Linked DNA regions of Homo sapiens: region 1 is linked to region 2. Evidence: fine-mapped expression QTL. A gene starts in region 2. The other region holds a variant in brackets. All regions are shown on one strand. Distances are from middle to middle.

Region 1 (8,334 bases), 170 kb after region 2:
TTGACTCCTTATCTGACCTTTTAAGAGAGGACCTCTCAAGAGCTTCCTGGAACTATGCTCCCTGGTTGAGGGTGGGGTAGGTGTGTAGATTATTCCATTCTCTTCTCTGAAATCTCTCCTTTTTTATTGGAGTTCTTTGGACCCGAGTCACCCTTTCCGGCCTAGTAGTAGCCAAAGGAAAAGAGTCTCTATTAATAATACCTTATTTGAGAGCAGTTGGGTCCAAGCATATCTCCCTTTGCCTTTTAGATTGGACTAGTCTTGCCTTCACAATCAAAACATTTCTCTTAAGGAAATCCTTCCCTCTACATGGCAATGGTGGTAAGGCTCAGCTTTAGCCAGTCAGCATGGACACTGGCTGCAAACAACCCAGGTGTGTCTCTGGCTGAACCCCAGGCTTCTTCCCCTGCTGTCCTCCCTTCCCCCATTATCAGCCTAGCTGCATTACTTCTCTTTCTCTCCAACTGCTCTCATTCTGACTTCAAGGTCAGCGTGTCTCAACCAGTTCAGCTCCTCCTTGATTCTTGGAGACAGTGTGTTCTTGCCACAGGTCTTTTTACTATTCATTTTTGGTTTTTTGGTTTCTTTTTTTTTTTTTGAGATGGAGTCTTGCTCTGTTGCCCAGGCTGGAGTGTAGGGGCGTGATCTTGGCTCACTCCAACCTCCATCTCCCGGGTTCAAGTGACTCTCCTACCTCAGTTTCCCTAGTAGCTGGGATTACAGGCATGCGCCACCATACCTGGCTAATTTTTGTATTTTTAGTAGAGACGGGGTTTCGCCATGTTGGCCAGGCTGGTCTCAAACTCCTGACCTCGAGTGATCTGCCTGCCTCAGCCTTCCAAAGTGCTGGGATTATAGGCATGAGCCACCACGCCTGGCCAGTTTTTTTCTTTTTTTCTTTTTTTTTTTTTTTTAGACAGGGTCTTGCTCTGTGCCCAGGCTAACTAAGTGCAGTGGTACAGTCATGGCTCACTGCAGCCTTGATATCCCGGGCTCAAGCAATCCTCCCATCTCAGCCTCCTGTGTAGCTGGGACTATAGGCATTTATAAACAGCCACTCCTGGTTAATTATTTATTTATTTTTTTTAGAGATGAGGTCTCATTATGTTGCCCAGGCTGGTCTCAAACTCCTGGAGGCATGCAGTCTCCCCTCCTTGTTCTCCCAAAGTGCTGGGATTACAGGTGTGAGCCACCCCATCCAACCTATTCCTCTTAATCTTTGGTTTTACTAATATTTTCATTAATGCCCCAAAAGATGGCCAGCCACCTGTAAAATAAGGTCCCCAGTTTCTCTATCTGTTCATTGATAAAAAGCCACTACCCTCTGTGGCTGAACCTCCAAATCTGGGTCTCTGATCAAAACCATGGCCAGGGTTAAGTAACAAATCTACAGAGGACTTTAAACTATGCCATGGGTTTTGAGGGTGATTCTAGGAGTCTGGAGGTAAGTGTACAGAATCAGGATATTAATTCCACCACAGTTCTTTTCTTGGCCCTAAAATCGGATTCAGGTCAACATAACATAAATAGGAAGAGAATTTGAAGCAGTTGATTGAATGCGTGGAAGGCTAGAACCACACAGGCTAGTGTACTCTAACCCAGTGGTCCTCAGACCAGTAGCATCACCTAGGAACTTGTTAGAAATGCAAATTCCTAGATTTTACCCCAGACCTACTCAATCATGGAGTGGAAGCCCAGGAAACTGTATTTTAATAAGCTTACTCAGTGACTTTTATGCATGTGAGAGTTTGAGAACCGAAGCTGTAGCCCACATGGAGCTTAGCTTCCTTTGGCCTGTCCCTGCCTGAGAAGCATGATAGGCACGACAAAAAAGTATCCCAACTACTGATATCTAAAGAATGTAGTCACTGAAGCTCTGCAAGTTTTAAGTGACTGAACGATTCCTCTAATGTTGGCGGCACCTGCTTAGATCTATCAGTTACAAAAGTCTGCGCAACCTGTGTATACTAAGGTAGCAAAGGCCTGAGTTTGCTGAGGTCCTGTGACACCAGTCTCATTAAACTGCTGTATCCTAAATAAGTCAAGGACCTAGAATCCCCTCCTGTCCAAAGCATCCTTCTTACTGGGTGTATCTTAAGTCTCCATCCCTGTGCCCGTTCCTTAAGCTTTCCTGGGCTTTGGGCCCTGTGCGGGTTTTGAGGGTGGTGGTAGACGTACGCATCATCTACCTTCCACTGAGTTGGAACCAACTGAGAAGTAGAATGAGTCCACAGCTAGGGATCAATATCAACTTTATTGCTGATAAAGTTGGATTGGAAAATGCAGCTGGGACTCTGCAGACACCACTAATCTTCCTAATGCCTTCCCCCGCACTGAATCTCCCCACTCCGCTGTGGACCTCCCCTCGGCAGAGGCAGAGGCCCCTTGGTGAAATTGCCAGACCACCCATGTGGTCCAGTTTGGCTCCCTAGAGCTTATGCAGCCTTTCCCCAAACCCCACTTCCATCCCCCCATCGGTTCATTTACCTGGTCTTTGGAAAAGAGTGGTAAATGGTGGAGAGACAGCCAGGGGAGGTGATCCAGTACTGTCCCCTCTGGGATGGACGTGAAGATAGAGAAATAAGGCTTTCCCTGGCTGTGGGAATCATATCTTAGGTCATGGAAAGAGTCGAGAATAGGAAGAGAGGAAGGTCAGGACTGAGGCTTGAGTGAAGCTTACATGTAAACATGGTTGCAAGGAGGAAGCCCCAAACTAAGAGGAAAAAGGAGAGTAGGAGGAGAAACCCAAGGAGCGTGTGGCATCACAGAGGCAGAGGCAAGAGCATTTTAAGGAGAGAGTGATCCGCAGGGTCAGAGTTTCCTAAGTGGGCAGTAATATGAGGAACAAAACCAATTCCTTGGACTTAGCCACATGGAACCACTGGTGACTTTACAGAAGGGTGGAAAGGGGAACTGAGGTTTAAGGTAGTCACTGGAAGGAGACAGGGTGTCCAGGGGGAGGCTAGAACTTGTTTGAACACTGACACAGAAGGACAGCCACATGTACTGTGGAGGCTATGGTGGGGGCTATAGCCCAGGCCCCACACTCCTGGCCAGGCACCTTGGGTACAGGCTCTGTCAGTCTATCTGGAGGACCTTCCCTAATTTGCACAAAAATCCTTCGTGAGCTAACACCTGCCCTGGATAGGAAAGATCTCCCAGCTTGAGTCCTGAGATACCTCCAAACCCCAATTAGGGCAGCAGCGACAAAGGCACTTCTTCATTTAGAGTTTGCCTGCAATTTTGTTAGGACCTAATTATGTTAGCACCCATTGATCAAGTATTTAAATTCTAATCTGATAAAACATCTAAACTCTCCCTTAGTGACAACTCCTTAGTTTCCTAGGAACCACACTTTAGATTAACAAGGAGGGGACTGCAAAGGCAACGGGGCAACTCTGACTCTCAGGATGGGAGAGCATCTCCCTGGACCAATTGCTGCCGTCTCTCCTGTCTTGATCCTCAGAGCCCATATTCCCTAAGAGCTGGTCTTCAGGCATGGTTTTTAGAACCATGGATTTGACTCTTATTTACAATATCTTACCTTTTTCAATTAAATAACTTCCAACTATGATATCATAGAAACATTACTACCACCAGAGACATCTTAATAATAAGCTGCCCCTGCTAATACCACACGCGTACAATTTCCCACACAACTTATCATATGTTCACATTTCTAGAAAACCAAAATAAATGGGATTGGAAAAAACTGTTTAGCAATTTTGGTCAGGGTGCATTTATTTATTTATTTATTTGTTGTTGTTGTTTTCTTTTTTTCTTCCCTTTTTTTTTTT[A/TTTA]ACAGTCCAGAGGTCTTTTAATTTTTTTTTACACCGATTACACCATGAATTCATCATAGGGAAGAGAGTCCAGCAGCTCAGGCTGTTTCCTGTTGGCTCTCACACAGTGCACTTCTCCGGGTGAAGCAGGCTGGCACCTCAGTTGAACCCAAGTGCCTTCCTCATTGGCTTCCTTCTTTTTCTGATCATTTTCCGTCACATGTTTCAGGAAGCTATGGCGGCTGTGCTTAATAATGCTATGGTGGCTGTGCTCAATAAATACCCACATTAATTCTCTTGGCAAGAATCTTGCCCTCAACTTGTTTGTTTACAACAATGCCAACAGCATGCTGTGGAACACTGTAGACTCTTCCAGTCTCTCCGTGATAACATTTGTGGGACATTCCTTTTTGAACAGTACACATTCCCTTATGTCTACAATATCACCTTTCTCGCAGATTGGCATATATGTGGCCAAAGGAACAACTCCATGTTTTCTAAAAGGCCTAGAGAACACGGGTTGCGTGCCTCACCTCTTTGTGTTTGTCATTTTGGGAAATTACTGGAAGATGCCAGTTCTGGCTGAAAGGGTCATTTAGTTCATATTAAGATTTAAATCTGGCTGGGTGCGGTGGCTCACACCTGTAACTCCAGCACTTTGGCAAGTTGAGGCAGGAGGATCCCTTAAGCTCAGGGTTCAAGACCAACCTGGGCAACAAAGTGAGACCTTGTCTCTAAATACAAAAAGAAGAAAAAGATATAAATGTGTTATTAAAGGGGAAAATTAGGATCGATGCTAAAAGTTTATTTTAAATTGGCCTCAGGATAATTTAGATATATAAATTATTTTTTAATACACACACACATGCACACACACGCACACACACTCCTATGAAACAACCAGAGTTCCTTTATTTTATTTTATTTTTTAGTTTTTTTTTTTTTTTGCCTTAGATCCAGGGACAGACTGGATGACAGCCAGATTTGAAATGTCTGCACTTTGGGTGCTATAATTAGGAGTCAATCAACTATTTTATGTTAATAAAAATCTACCCATGTTTCTGGTATGCCAAGGTAATAGAAATGACAAAACAAAATGATTTATTATCAGGAAATGACTGAAGGAGATAACTGCAATATAAAAGATAAAGAATGATAATTACTGTTATACATGTGGTAGCCAGAAACTTAGACCGTTTTCTGGGGAAAAAAATTAGTACAGGCACATTATCCACTGTAGGACATTTATGACAAACTCTTTTTTAGGAGGTTAAAATATGATACTGGAATGTAATAGGCTTCAAAATAACATAATAATAAAACATGTTAGGGACTTATTTACAGATGAAAATGACTTCTAATGGGATTTTGGCACTTCCTTTCTACAGGGTCCAAGGTGGGGTGATCTATGCAAAAGTCCATTCTAGGCTTAACAAGGCCTTCTAGAAGTTTTAACATATTCTAGTCTTCCTGCAAGGCCTAGGAGGGAACCAGCTATATCCTGTCCTGGAGATGGAGGATGCACGACCACTTTGAAGAGACATAACAGATCTATGTAGAGGAATGGTTCCTGGGTTCAGACAGGGCTATTGCACGCAGGAGTGAAGAGAGAGGGGTCAGGATGGCCCCCTGTGTGTACAAAATTGTTGCCAATGGGGATGTGGGGTGGGCATTGGGGAATGAAAATGAAAGGAAATAAATACATAAATAAAACAAAAGTGACCTTTTACCACCCAAATATATAATAAGGATGATGATGATGTGCCATGAACTGGGGAGTAGGATTAATGGTTCAATTAAAAATGCATACATCAGCTGGGCACCGTGGCTCATGCCTGTAATCCCAGCACTTTGGAGGCTGAGGCAGGCAGATCACCTGAGGTTAGGAGTTCGAGACCAGTCTAGCCAACATGGTGAAATCCTGTCTCTACTAAAAATACAAAAATTAGCCAGGTGTGGTGGCAGGCGCCTGTAATCCCAGCTACTTGGGAGGCTGAGGCATGAGAATCACTTGAACCTAGGAGGCAGAAGTTTCAGTGAGCCGAGATCGCACCACTGCATTCCAGCCTGGGAGATAGAGTGAGACTCTGTCTCAAAACAAACAAACAAACAAAAAATGCATCACACATACATGAATAAAATATACCCAAAGAGAGCAAGGTTTGTTATCAAGTAGGTTTGTTTTCAGTGCCTTTTTACTTTCCACTCACCTCCTTTCACATTCCTGCTTTCCTAGCTTTTCTTTCCCCAATCTTGGGATGGCCCCCTGGCTGCCCAGGGACTCCTCACTGTGAGCTCCTCCCCAGGGAGCATCCCATGCTGTCCACACATTCTCCTTTCTCTCTTCCTTGGTATCTTTCTGTCCTCTGCTTCATTCATTAGAACTGGCAAGAGGGCCCTTGCCCTGAGTCCTGCACTTTAGAGGGGCCTGCTCCTGCCATGCCCCTCTCCATGGGGTGAAGAGTCCTTAGGACCAAGGGGACTCCTCCCCAGCCTGGAGCCCATGCTCTCCTTCAAGATCACAGTTTGGGAACCTGAGAACTCAAAGAGCCCCAGCTCTCCTGCAGGCCTGTTCCCAGTATCGGTGGTCTCAAGGGCAGACTACGTTCGTGGTGTGTGCATCCCAAAGCCCAGAGTACCCAAGGGGCAGCTGGACAGAGCTTGAAAGTGCAGGCAGGGGTGCCCACATACCTATACGGGAGGCCCCTGTGGTGTGGGAGGGATCCAGGGTGGGAGGAGAAGGGAGGCTGGACATGAGCTGGGGCTAGGGGCTGGCTGGCCCTTCATGTGCCACCACTTCTGGCAGAGAAGTCTAAGTAGAGTCTGAGAATTCTGAAGTTGAACCCAGCCTTCCAAATTGTCATCAGGGTAGGAAGATGGAACATATTTCATCAGTTTGTTGGCTTGATTATAACTTTTAAATATTTAGACACACATGGTGTAGACCTCTTTTGGAACTGGCAGGTGTAAAGGATTGTCTTGGATTGAACCCTCTGCCTTCCACAAGGACATCTGGGGCTTTGAAAGGTGGCCCCTGGAAACATGGGGTCTTTACCCAAGGAAGGGCTATCCTGATCAGAGCACGGTAAATACTGTGGCAAGGGGTTGGTGCAACAGAGTCTTTGGTCTCCCTCTGATCACACTAGGTAAGTGGCTGCCTCATCTGTCTTTGATGGCTGGTCCCAGCTGGAGGATGGGTTGGCCATTCAGTGATCACTACTGTATATAAATGAGCAAAGCAAACTGCCCCCTGTCTACCAGGCACTGGGGCTGTCAGCATCTCCTCCACCCTCTCCCACCTTTAACTTACACAGGCTGAAAATAGCTTTTTAATTTTTTTCTTAGGACATGCCACTGGATAGTGTTGGTTTTTTTTTTTTTTTTTTTTTTTTTTTTTTGAGATAGAGTCTTGCTTAGTCACCCAGACTGGAGTGCAGTGTTGCAATCTCAGCTAAGTGCAGCCTCTGCCTCCTGGGTTCAAGTGATTCTCCTGCCTCAACCTCCTGAATAGCTGGGATTACAGGCGTGAGCCACCACACCCTGCTAATTTTTTTTTTTCGTATTTTTTTTAGTAGAGATGGGGTTTCACCATGTTTCCAAGGCTGGTCTCGAACTCCTGGGACCTCAAGTGATCCGCCCACCTCGGGCTCCCGAAGTGCTGGGATTATAGGCATGAACCACCGTGCCTGACCAGGATGATGGGAATTTTTAATGGGAAGGCTGTGACACAACCTAAAAGAGGCACCATTAGTGAGGCAAGCAGGCAGAAGTCTTTGGATAGGAGGAGCAATGAACCTGGGAGAGAGCATCGAGCAGGGGCACATGTGGAGAACCTGCTTCGGAACCTATTAGAGGCAGAAAAGACCCTGGGCAAGTCCAGTTCCCATGGATCAGGCATTCCTTGGATTGTCCGCCCTGCATTTGTCTTCTCTCTTTCCCTTTTCCTTGCAGTACCCCGAGGCTCCCACTCCTGTTCCCGGAACCAAGCTAGGTCCGGCTGCATTTTCTGGAGGCTCAATAACAAGAAGCAGACAAACTAGGAAAGAAGGGAATTGACTACTATAGCCGGATACAGGGAGAAGGCCGGAGATAATTCCACCAGACCAACTCAAAAGTGTTAAAATTTTCTTAGTGCAGTCTAGCATTCGCCTAAGTCTATTGGTAACTAATTTTGTTTCAACTAGAAGGTCAGAGGCAAAAAAAAGAAATGCTAAGTCCGATTAAAAGGGCCCCAGTACCTTCAAGGCCTGTCTATGGTGGTACGGAGTGATTATTTCTATCTTATCTCTTTTACAGCTTGGTCTGGAGAGCTGCCTTAGACTTCCCAATGAATTTATTAAAACAGCTGCCTCTGTAACCTTGACTTGTCTCAGATTTTGTCGACCTGAGATGGGTCCTGGCACTAGGAATGTAAAACTGTCTCTATTATTTTGGTTTGCTCCAGCAAGGGAGAAGCCCATGCAAGGCTCCTACTGACTGTATGTTTCATTTCTAGCTTGGATGTCTCAGCACCGATTTCTCTAGGTTTAACTATTTGCTCAATGTTCAGGCAGCACTG
Region 2 (8,334 bases):
AGCTTTGTTCCGTTGCTGGCAAGGAGCTGCGATCCTTTGGAGGAGATGAGGTGCTCTGATTTTTAGAATTTTCAGCTTTTCTGCTCTGGTTTCTCCCCATCTTTGTGGTTTTATCTACCTTTGGTCTTTGATGTTGGTAACCTACAAATGGGGTTTTGGTGTGGATGTCCTTTTTGTTGATGTTGAAGCTATTCCTTTCTGTCTACTAGTTTTCCTTCTAATGGTCACGTCCCTCAGCTGCAGGTCTGTTGGAGTTTGCTGGAGGTCCACTGCAGACCCTGTTTGCCTGGGTATCACCAGCAGAGGCTACAGAACAGCAAATATTGCTGCCTGATCCTTCCTCTGGAAGCTTTGTCCCAGAGGGACACCTGCCTGTTTGAGGTGTCTGTCAGCCCCTACTGGGAGGTGTTTCCCAGTCAGGCTACACGGGGGTCAGGGACCCACTTGAGGAGGCCGTCTGTCCGTTCTCAGAGCTCAAACACCATGCTGGGAGAACCACTGCTCTCTTCAGAGCTATCAGACAGGGACGTTTAAGTCCACAGAAGTTTCTGCTGCCTTTTGCTCAGCTATGCCCTGCCCACAGAGCTGAAGTCTATGGAGGCAGTAGGCCTTGCTGAGCTGCAGTGGGCTCCTCCCAGTTCAAGCTTCCTGGGCGCTCTGTTTACCTACTCAAGCCTCAGCAATGGTGGATTCCCCTCCCCCTGCCAGGCTGCTGCCTCGCAGATTGATCTCAGACTGCTGTGCTAGCACTGAGCAAGGCTCCATGGGTATAGGATCCGTCAAGCCAGGCATGGGAGAGAATCTCCTGGTCTGCTTGTTGCTAAGACTGTGGAAAAAGCCCACTATTTGGGCAGAAGTGTCCCATTTTTCCAGGTATAGTCTGTCACGGCATCCCTTGGTTAGGAAAGGGAAATCCCCCAATCCCTTGCGCTTCCTGGGTGAGGTGATGCCCCGCCTCGATTTGGCTCACCCTCCATGGGGTGCGACCAGTGTTCAACCAGTCCCAGTGAGATGAACCAGGTACCTCAGTTGGAAACACAGAAATCACCCGTCCTGTGCGTCAATCACGCTGGGAGCTGCAGACCAGAGCTGTTCCTATTCCCACATTTTCATACTAAAGCGAAAATACATACAATGGTCTCAACAGATGCAGAAAAGCCATTCATAAAATTTAATATTTCTTCACAATAAAAATCTGAGCAAGGTAAGGGCTGGGCATAGTGACTCACACCTGTAATCTCAGCACTTTGGGAGGCCTAGGTGGGCAGATCACCTGAGGTCAGGAGTTCAAGACCAGCCTGGCCAACATAGTGAAACCCCATCTCTATTAAAAATACAAAAATTAGCTGGGCGGAGTGGCACGCGCCTGTAGTCTCAACTGTCCGGGAGACTGAGGCAGGAGAATCACTTGAACCCAGGAGGTAGAGGTTGCCATGAGCCAAGATTGCGTCTCTGCACTCCAGCCTGGGAGACACAGTGAGACTCCATCTCAAACAAAAATAAAAATGAAATAAAAATAAAATAAAATAAATCTGAGCAAGGTAGAGAGAGAGAATTTTGACAAGATATCTATCAAAAACAAAAAGCAAACTTCACATTTAACAGTAAAACTTCAGAAGCACTCCAGTGGAAGTCAGGACCAATACAAGGATGCTAGCTTATCTGTAAATGACAGAACTGGCTACACAAAACTAAAGAGAATTTCAACCAAACCATCAGAACTAATTAAGAGTTTGAGATTATGCTGTACATAATATTTACATTAAAAAAAATCAATAGCATTCTGCCATACCAGTTAATAACCAACTGGAAAATGTAAAAGGAAAAAAGAAAGCCCATTTGCAACTACTACAGCAAAAATAATCTAGGAATAAAAAATAAAATATGGAAAAAAATTTCATGGAGGTAATTATAAGTTTTTTGTTGTTGTTGTTGTTTGAGATGGAGTCTCCCTCTGTTGCCCAGGCTGCAGTGCAGTGGCGTGATCTTGGCTCACTGCAAGCTCCGCCTCGTGGGTTCACGCCATTCTCCTGCCTCAGCCTCCTGATTAGCTGGGACTACAGGTGCCCGCCACCGCACCCAGCTAATGTTTTTTTGTATTTTTAGTAGAGACGGGGTTTCTCCGAGTTAGCCAGGATGGTCTCGATCTCCTGACCTCGTGATCTGCCCGCCCAGTCTCCCAAAGTGGATAATTATAAGATATTTAAGGCAAAAAGATAAATTCCCACCAATTGTAGCTTATACAATATTCATGGAATAAAAACTTACTTGATCCATAAATTCAGCTCAGTTCCAATAAAAATCCCAGTAAGTCTTTTTATAAAGGACTAAGTGTAAAGAGCGCAATTACAAAGAACAGCAATGTGTGGAAACTCTTGACATACTACATATCAAGACTTATAAAATTCTGTAATTAAGATAGTGTGGTGCTAGTAGAAAGTCAGAAAATGCCCAAAACAGAACTACATATTTAGGAAACCTTGATATGACATAGATGGCATTAAAAACTAAGAATAGACTACTCAATAAATGGTGCTGCGACAATTAGTTACCTATATGGAAAAAAAAATTAGATTTTTATACAAAGTCAGTTCCATGTGGATTAAATGCAAATGAAAAAACCGGAAGATTTAAAAGAAAACATACAGAAAAACTGTCCTGATCTAGGTAGACAGGATTTCTTAACCAAGACAAAAAGCATAAACAATAAAATATGACAATTTTGGCTGTATTAAAATCAAAAACATCTGTACAAAAAATTGAACATAAATATAAAGAGGAGAAGCCACACAGTGAAAAATATTAGCAAAATGTAGTAACAAAAAAGGATTAGTTTAACAATACTCTTACAAATTGGTAAGCAAAGATAAAGCCAATAGAAAATTGGGCAACAGAAAAAACAAAAACAGATACAAAAAATAATATATAAATAGTAACATGTAATTAGATATAAAATATATATTATTGTTACATTGTTAAGTTTTAGATATAAAATGCATATAAATAGCACAAACCTAAGTACTAAAATATAAAAACATTACTGGGTATGCGAAACACCAAATAAGGACAATAGTCACCACTATAAAGAAGAATGGGAGAGTTTAGCCGTCTTTTATTTTGAAAAATTCGACATAAGTCTGGCAAATGTTAACACTGTTTAAAGTTGAGTAGTGAATATATAGGTATTATCTTACTCTCTACTGGTCTCTGTGTTTAAAATATTTCACGATAAAGTGGGAAAATGGTTAATTTTACATAAAAAGAACTTTAACAGATGCAAAAAATAAAACCTCTCTCATTCGACAAGCAGCCTAAATGGGGAAAAAAGAACCCACTCAAAAAAAAGGTAGCAGATAATGTCACCGTGGCTTACCAGCCTAATCAAACTTATTACTTGTTATGTATATATCCTTATTAAACTAAGTCGTTACTGTGTTAAAGCATTTTAGTGTTTAAATAAAAGATTTCAGAATACAGCAGAAATACATTCCAATATGTTGGGGTTTTTACGCTTAGGAAAACCTACAATAGTAGGTGATTTGACATTTGAATCACACCTATCTGAATTAAGATGTCCAGCACTACCAAACAAAAGCCACACGAGGCCACGAAACACTCCCAACTCTGCATGTTTTAGCCTTTTTAAAGTCCTAGAAACCAACTGATACTGATTAAAAACCAAACAAAAAAAAAATACAGGCCTCAGAAAAATACACTATTTTGCACACAAAGTCCATCCATAGGCCTCAGATCTAGAACTCCTGCTTTAAAGTTGCTTCTCCAATCTCGATCCGAAACACTGGCTGAGTTATGCTGGAAAAGAATGCAAAGTGTACGGGGCTTGAGTTCCTGTTGCGTAAAACCTTTCCGGCTTTCAGCAACTTCTCGAGAGGTTAACACCTTTAAGGAGAGACTTTGCTCCCTGTCGATGCCGTGGCTGGACAAATGCCGCTCTCAACTGCTACAGACCAAAGTCTACGCTTTAAAGATAGAGAAGCCATTCTGTCAAAGTGAAAACAGAAGCGGTAGGTAGGAAGCCGCCCCCCTTTCTTTCAAGCACAGAGACCCAGAGAGACGCCCAGGAGCTCCCGAAAAAAACGTTGCTGATTAGAGCTGCCGGGTCAGAAACAGCTGTGAGACACTAAAGTCCCCACTGGTAAGCGCCCCAGCTCCACCTCGGCCCCTATCCCCAAGGTTGGGTATTGGTTAAAGGGGGGAAGGGAATACCTCCACTAACAACCGCTACAACCGCCTCCTGCCAAGTCCCCGCTCGGGCCCACTAAACTCACAGCCTGAAGAATCCCACACTCACTGGAAAGTGGGGCCCGGTCCTGGTCCCGGTCCGGCTCCCGGAATTCGGCGGGTCTCCCAGGGTTTGGGGGGAGGTGGCGGCTGGGACGCCATCTCCTCCGCCTCCTCTCGGCTCCCGCTCCTACCCCTGACTGTCCAGGCCCGCGTAGACCAGCACCTGGAGCGTAAGACACAACGGGCAGAACACCGAGCCGTCCACCCCGCCCACCCTTGCAGTCAGGACAAGGCTTGAGTTACTTTGCCAGCTGAATCCATACAGCGGGAGGATGCCACTAATTTGTAGGAAGAAACACGCTCTTTGTATTTGCCCCAGAAAGAGCTGCCTTTCTAAACCTCAGGGTAAAGGCTCATCGATATTTCTGGTAGCGGCTACAACTCCCTAGACGTCGGAGTCCCACCGAGGCTTTTCTGGGAGTGGACCAGTCGGGCTGGGAGTAAAGCCGCACGCACTCCTTCGCTCGTGGGGGAGGTAGGGTGAGGTGGCAAACCAGGCAGTTTTTCGGATTTCCTCTACAAACAAGAAGGGAGAAGCTCACTTAGTCCTAGCGAGAGCGGGCTGGTACTTTTGTTCTAAAACGCACGTTTCCTCGGGGAACAGAATTGCTAGACGCAATAGGTGCGTTGTCTTTAGTCTTCCCTCTTCCCTTCGAGGGCCGGAAGGGGTTAAATCTCAGGCTCCGGCGTCTGGGGAGAAGGTGAGGCGGGTAGGTAAGAGGTGAAGGAGTGCAGACTGGGTGCAAAAGAGGTGTGGCGGGAGAGAGTTCGTTTCTCTCCTGCTGGAGCGGCTTTGTTAGCAAAGGAGGGGTGAGTGGGAAGTTTGTTGCACCTGACCGAAGGGGGAAGGGCTTGCTTGGCGAAAACTGAGGCTTGAGGTTAGATCTCGGGATGAACTTTTCAAGAGTCCACAGTAGATTCCAGAGCTGAATGTTTCAGAAGCCCAGTGAAGTGTGATCACCTCTTTCTCCGTAAATCCACACCCCCAGCCCCACGCCGCGTTACGAATGACACCCTTCGGTAGGGAAATGAGTTTTAAAAGATCTTAGGATATGAGACTCAGTCTGGTCATTTCGCTAGTTTTTCTTATACCCTGCCCCTTTTCTCGTTTTCGATGACTGGTTTTTGTAATCGTCCAAGAGGTGAAAATAAAGTCCTTCCTCTCCTCCAGTAAGCCAGAGACTGGGCTAGTTATCCTTGATTTGGGGAGGAGGGATTCAGTCCTCCTAGGGAGCCTGACACATGAAAGGCGGCTTTGTAGCAACTTGTTACAGAGTTATTTCTATAAAACAAACACATAAACGAAAAGCAAACATCTTGAGGGTAACCAACACTGGAAAACTTACATTGTGGAATGCCTTTCTCAGGGCTTGCTTTCAAACATAATAAATCTAATATGGACAACCGATTTCTAATATCTTATGAAATCCTGGCATTTAATTATCTCACGATGAAAAAACCAAATTTAAGACGTAACGTATTTTCTCCTTTTAATGTTAACATTCTTGAGAAGTTGATAAATTGTTGGTAGGTGAAAATGATGTTGAGAGGTTTGTAAATTCATAGCTCGTTTATTAACACACATTCAAAAGAGGTCTTTTTTGGGGTCTATTTTTAGACCTCTTCAAATTACTCAGGACTGGAAGTTTTGTAATTCTCATCAATCAGGTTTGGGAACTTCTCAGAGCCAGGAGATTGTAATGTGTCATTTATTTACTTTGCATGATACCTTTGTTCTTGTGAACTTACTGGAAAAATAAACATTGTCTTCTAGCCATGGAAAATAAAATAAATTTTAATATAGCTATTTAAGTATCGAGGGAAATCTTCATTAAGTGTCCTTTTAAAGTGCTTATTGATTTATTGGAAGAGGGTGTATTTCTTCTGTCTCTTTTTGAGTTAAATGTTACTTCTGAATTAAGTAAAATTCTTGACCTTAACTAATGGAGAAAAAATAACTTAGAGTAACAGGTGAAACAGAAACAGTTTCTCTGTGTATGTAGTCAGAGATGCACTGTAAATGCTTATATTCGCCCCTCACAGCATCCGATCTCTTCTCTGCATCAAAGTAGATTAAATGGGCTGGGAAAAGGGATCCAGATCACTAGTAAATAGTAATGACTTGACCTTGACCACACAGATCTTATTTATTTATTTATTGAGATGGAGTCTCGCTCTGTTGCCCAGACTGGAGTACAGTGGCACGATTTTGGCTCTCTGCAACCTCTGCCTCCTGGGTTCGGGCGATTCTCCTGCCTCAGCCTCCTGAGTAGCTGGGACTACAGGTGCGTGCCACCACGCATGGCTAATTTTTTGTATTTTTAGTAGAGATGGGATTTCATCGTGTTAGCCAGGATGGTCTCGATCTCCTGACCTCATGATCCTCCTGCCTCAGCCTCCCAAAGTCCTGGGCTTACTGCAACCTCCACCTACTGGGTTCAAGTGATTCTCCTGCCTCAACCTCCCGAGTAGCAGGGATTACAGGTGCACACCTCCACACGTGGCTAATTTTTGTATTTTAGTAGAGATGGAGTTTTACCATGTTGGCCAGGCTGGTCTTGAACTCCAGACCTCAAGTGATAATGCCTGCCTCGGCCTCCCAAAGTGCTGGGATTACAGGCGTGAGCCACTGGGCCTGGCCAGATCTTCATTATTTAGAGGCTGTTTTCCACATATTCTGTTTTCTTTCTTGAAAATACCCTGGAGCCCAAATTTACTTAGGCAACCCTAACTATGCGTTTCTCAATTCTGGTGTTTCAAAGTTGTCACCTTGTCAGCTTGTATGGTGTGTCCATACAAGCCTGATTTTCTTCCCTCTGCTGACTCACATATTCCCCTGAATTAGAATTCAGCCAGAGGCAATCTGTTTTTAGTAGTCCTGGCTGCTGAACTGATTTTTATGGTGAAGAGTTCTATGTAACTATATGCCTGTCTTCCTCATTATTTTGTGCAAGAATCTTGGTAAGTGGCCCCAAACATTTAGCAACTTGCAAGTAAGTAGGAAGTTTTAGAGGTTTGGAAAACGCAGACTAGAAGAATCACGTCTTTATACTAAGCTGTTGGGAGGAGCTTCACCCTTCCACAAATTTTAAGCAAGTTCATTTGAATTATGAAACTGCACAAATTAAAAGATGCCACTGTCGTTCATCTTTATGACCACAGTTACAGCATGCCATAAGATTGCCATGCAATGATTATTTTCTAAAATATGGGCAGTTGATCATTTTAAGGTAATATGAACTGTTTCACTAATTAGAAGATCTTGTTTTGCTGAACAAATTAGGTTGTTTGAATTTTTAGTACCCCCTCCTTCCCGGTAACAGGAGACAGATTTGCCTTCATTCTCTATATAGTATTTTTTTGTGAGTTTATTTAAATTGCAAAAATTGGCAATTTAAGCAAACAGTTGCTCTCAAATATTTTGTACTTAATTTGTTTTTGTTGAAGGTTTTTTTGTTTGTTTGTTTGCTTGTTTGTTTGAGATGGAATTTCGCTCTTATTGCCCAGGCTGGAGTGAAGTGGCATGATCTCGGCTCACTGCACCCTCCGCCTCCTGGGGTTCAAGTGATTCTCTTGTCTCAGCCTCCTGAGTGGCTGGGATTATAGGCACACGCCAACACACCTGGCTAATAGTTTTTTGTATTTTTAGTAGAGATAGGGTTTTACCGTGTTGGCCAGGCTGGTCTCAAACTCCTGTTGTCAGGTGATCCGCCCGCCTCGGCTTCCCAAAGTGCTGGGATTACAGGTGTGAGCCACTGCGCCTGACCTTTTGTTGGAGGTTTTACTCATGAAAGGGGCAGATTTTTATTTTGTTAACAGGTGGTTGCCATTTAGTCATATAATCAAAGTAAAGTTGATGTCTTTAGACCTGCTGATCAACTTTGTTGTTGTTGTTGTTGTTGTTGTTTGTTTGTATTTTTGAGACAGCATCTCACTCTGTTGCCCAGGCTGGAGTGCAGGCGCCAGCCACCACACCCAACTAATTTTTGTATTTTTAGTAGAGACAAGGTTTCACCATGTTGGTCAGGC

Alleles and levels. Positions count from the first base shown, and alleles are read on the strand shown. Sizes are in standard deviations (SD) of each study's normalised expression.
In carriers of allele TTTA in region 1, the expression in monocytes after LPS of the gene that starts at base 3,909 in region 2 tends to be higher than with A alone (small effect, 0.40 SD a copy in Quach 2016).

The links. PIP is the estimated chance that this variant, and not a neighbour inherited with it, causes the effect.
Region 1: its variant is fine-mapped to the expression of PUS10 in monocytes after LPS (Quach 2016, PIP 0.95).

What each region holds. Positions count from the first base shown.
Region 1 is chr2:60,848,252-60,856,585 of GRCh38, reverse strand. REL-DT (REL divergent transcript) reads left to right here. Exons shown (of 3, transcript NR_033980.1): 3 at 7,352-8,334. It also overlaps the pseudogene RPL21P33. Among named protein-coding and RNA genes, the nearest start is that of REL-DT, 29 kb to the left of the region's middle. The variant A/TTTA (reference allele first, on the strand shown) is at 3,798.
Region 2 is chr2:61,013,830-61,022,163 of GRCh38, reverse strand. It overlaps PUS10 (pseudouridine synthase 10), which reads left to right and starts at 3,909. Exons shown (of 18, transcript NM_144709.4): 1 at 3,909-4,156. PEX13 (peroxisomal biogenesis factor 13) reads right to left here and starts at 4,444. Exons shown (of 4, transcript NM_002618.4): 1 at 4,313-4,444. The coding sequence starts at 4,404. RefSeq lists an enhancer at 3,988-4,037.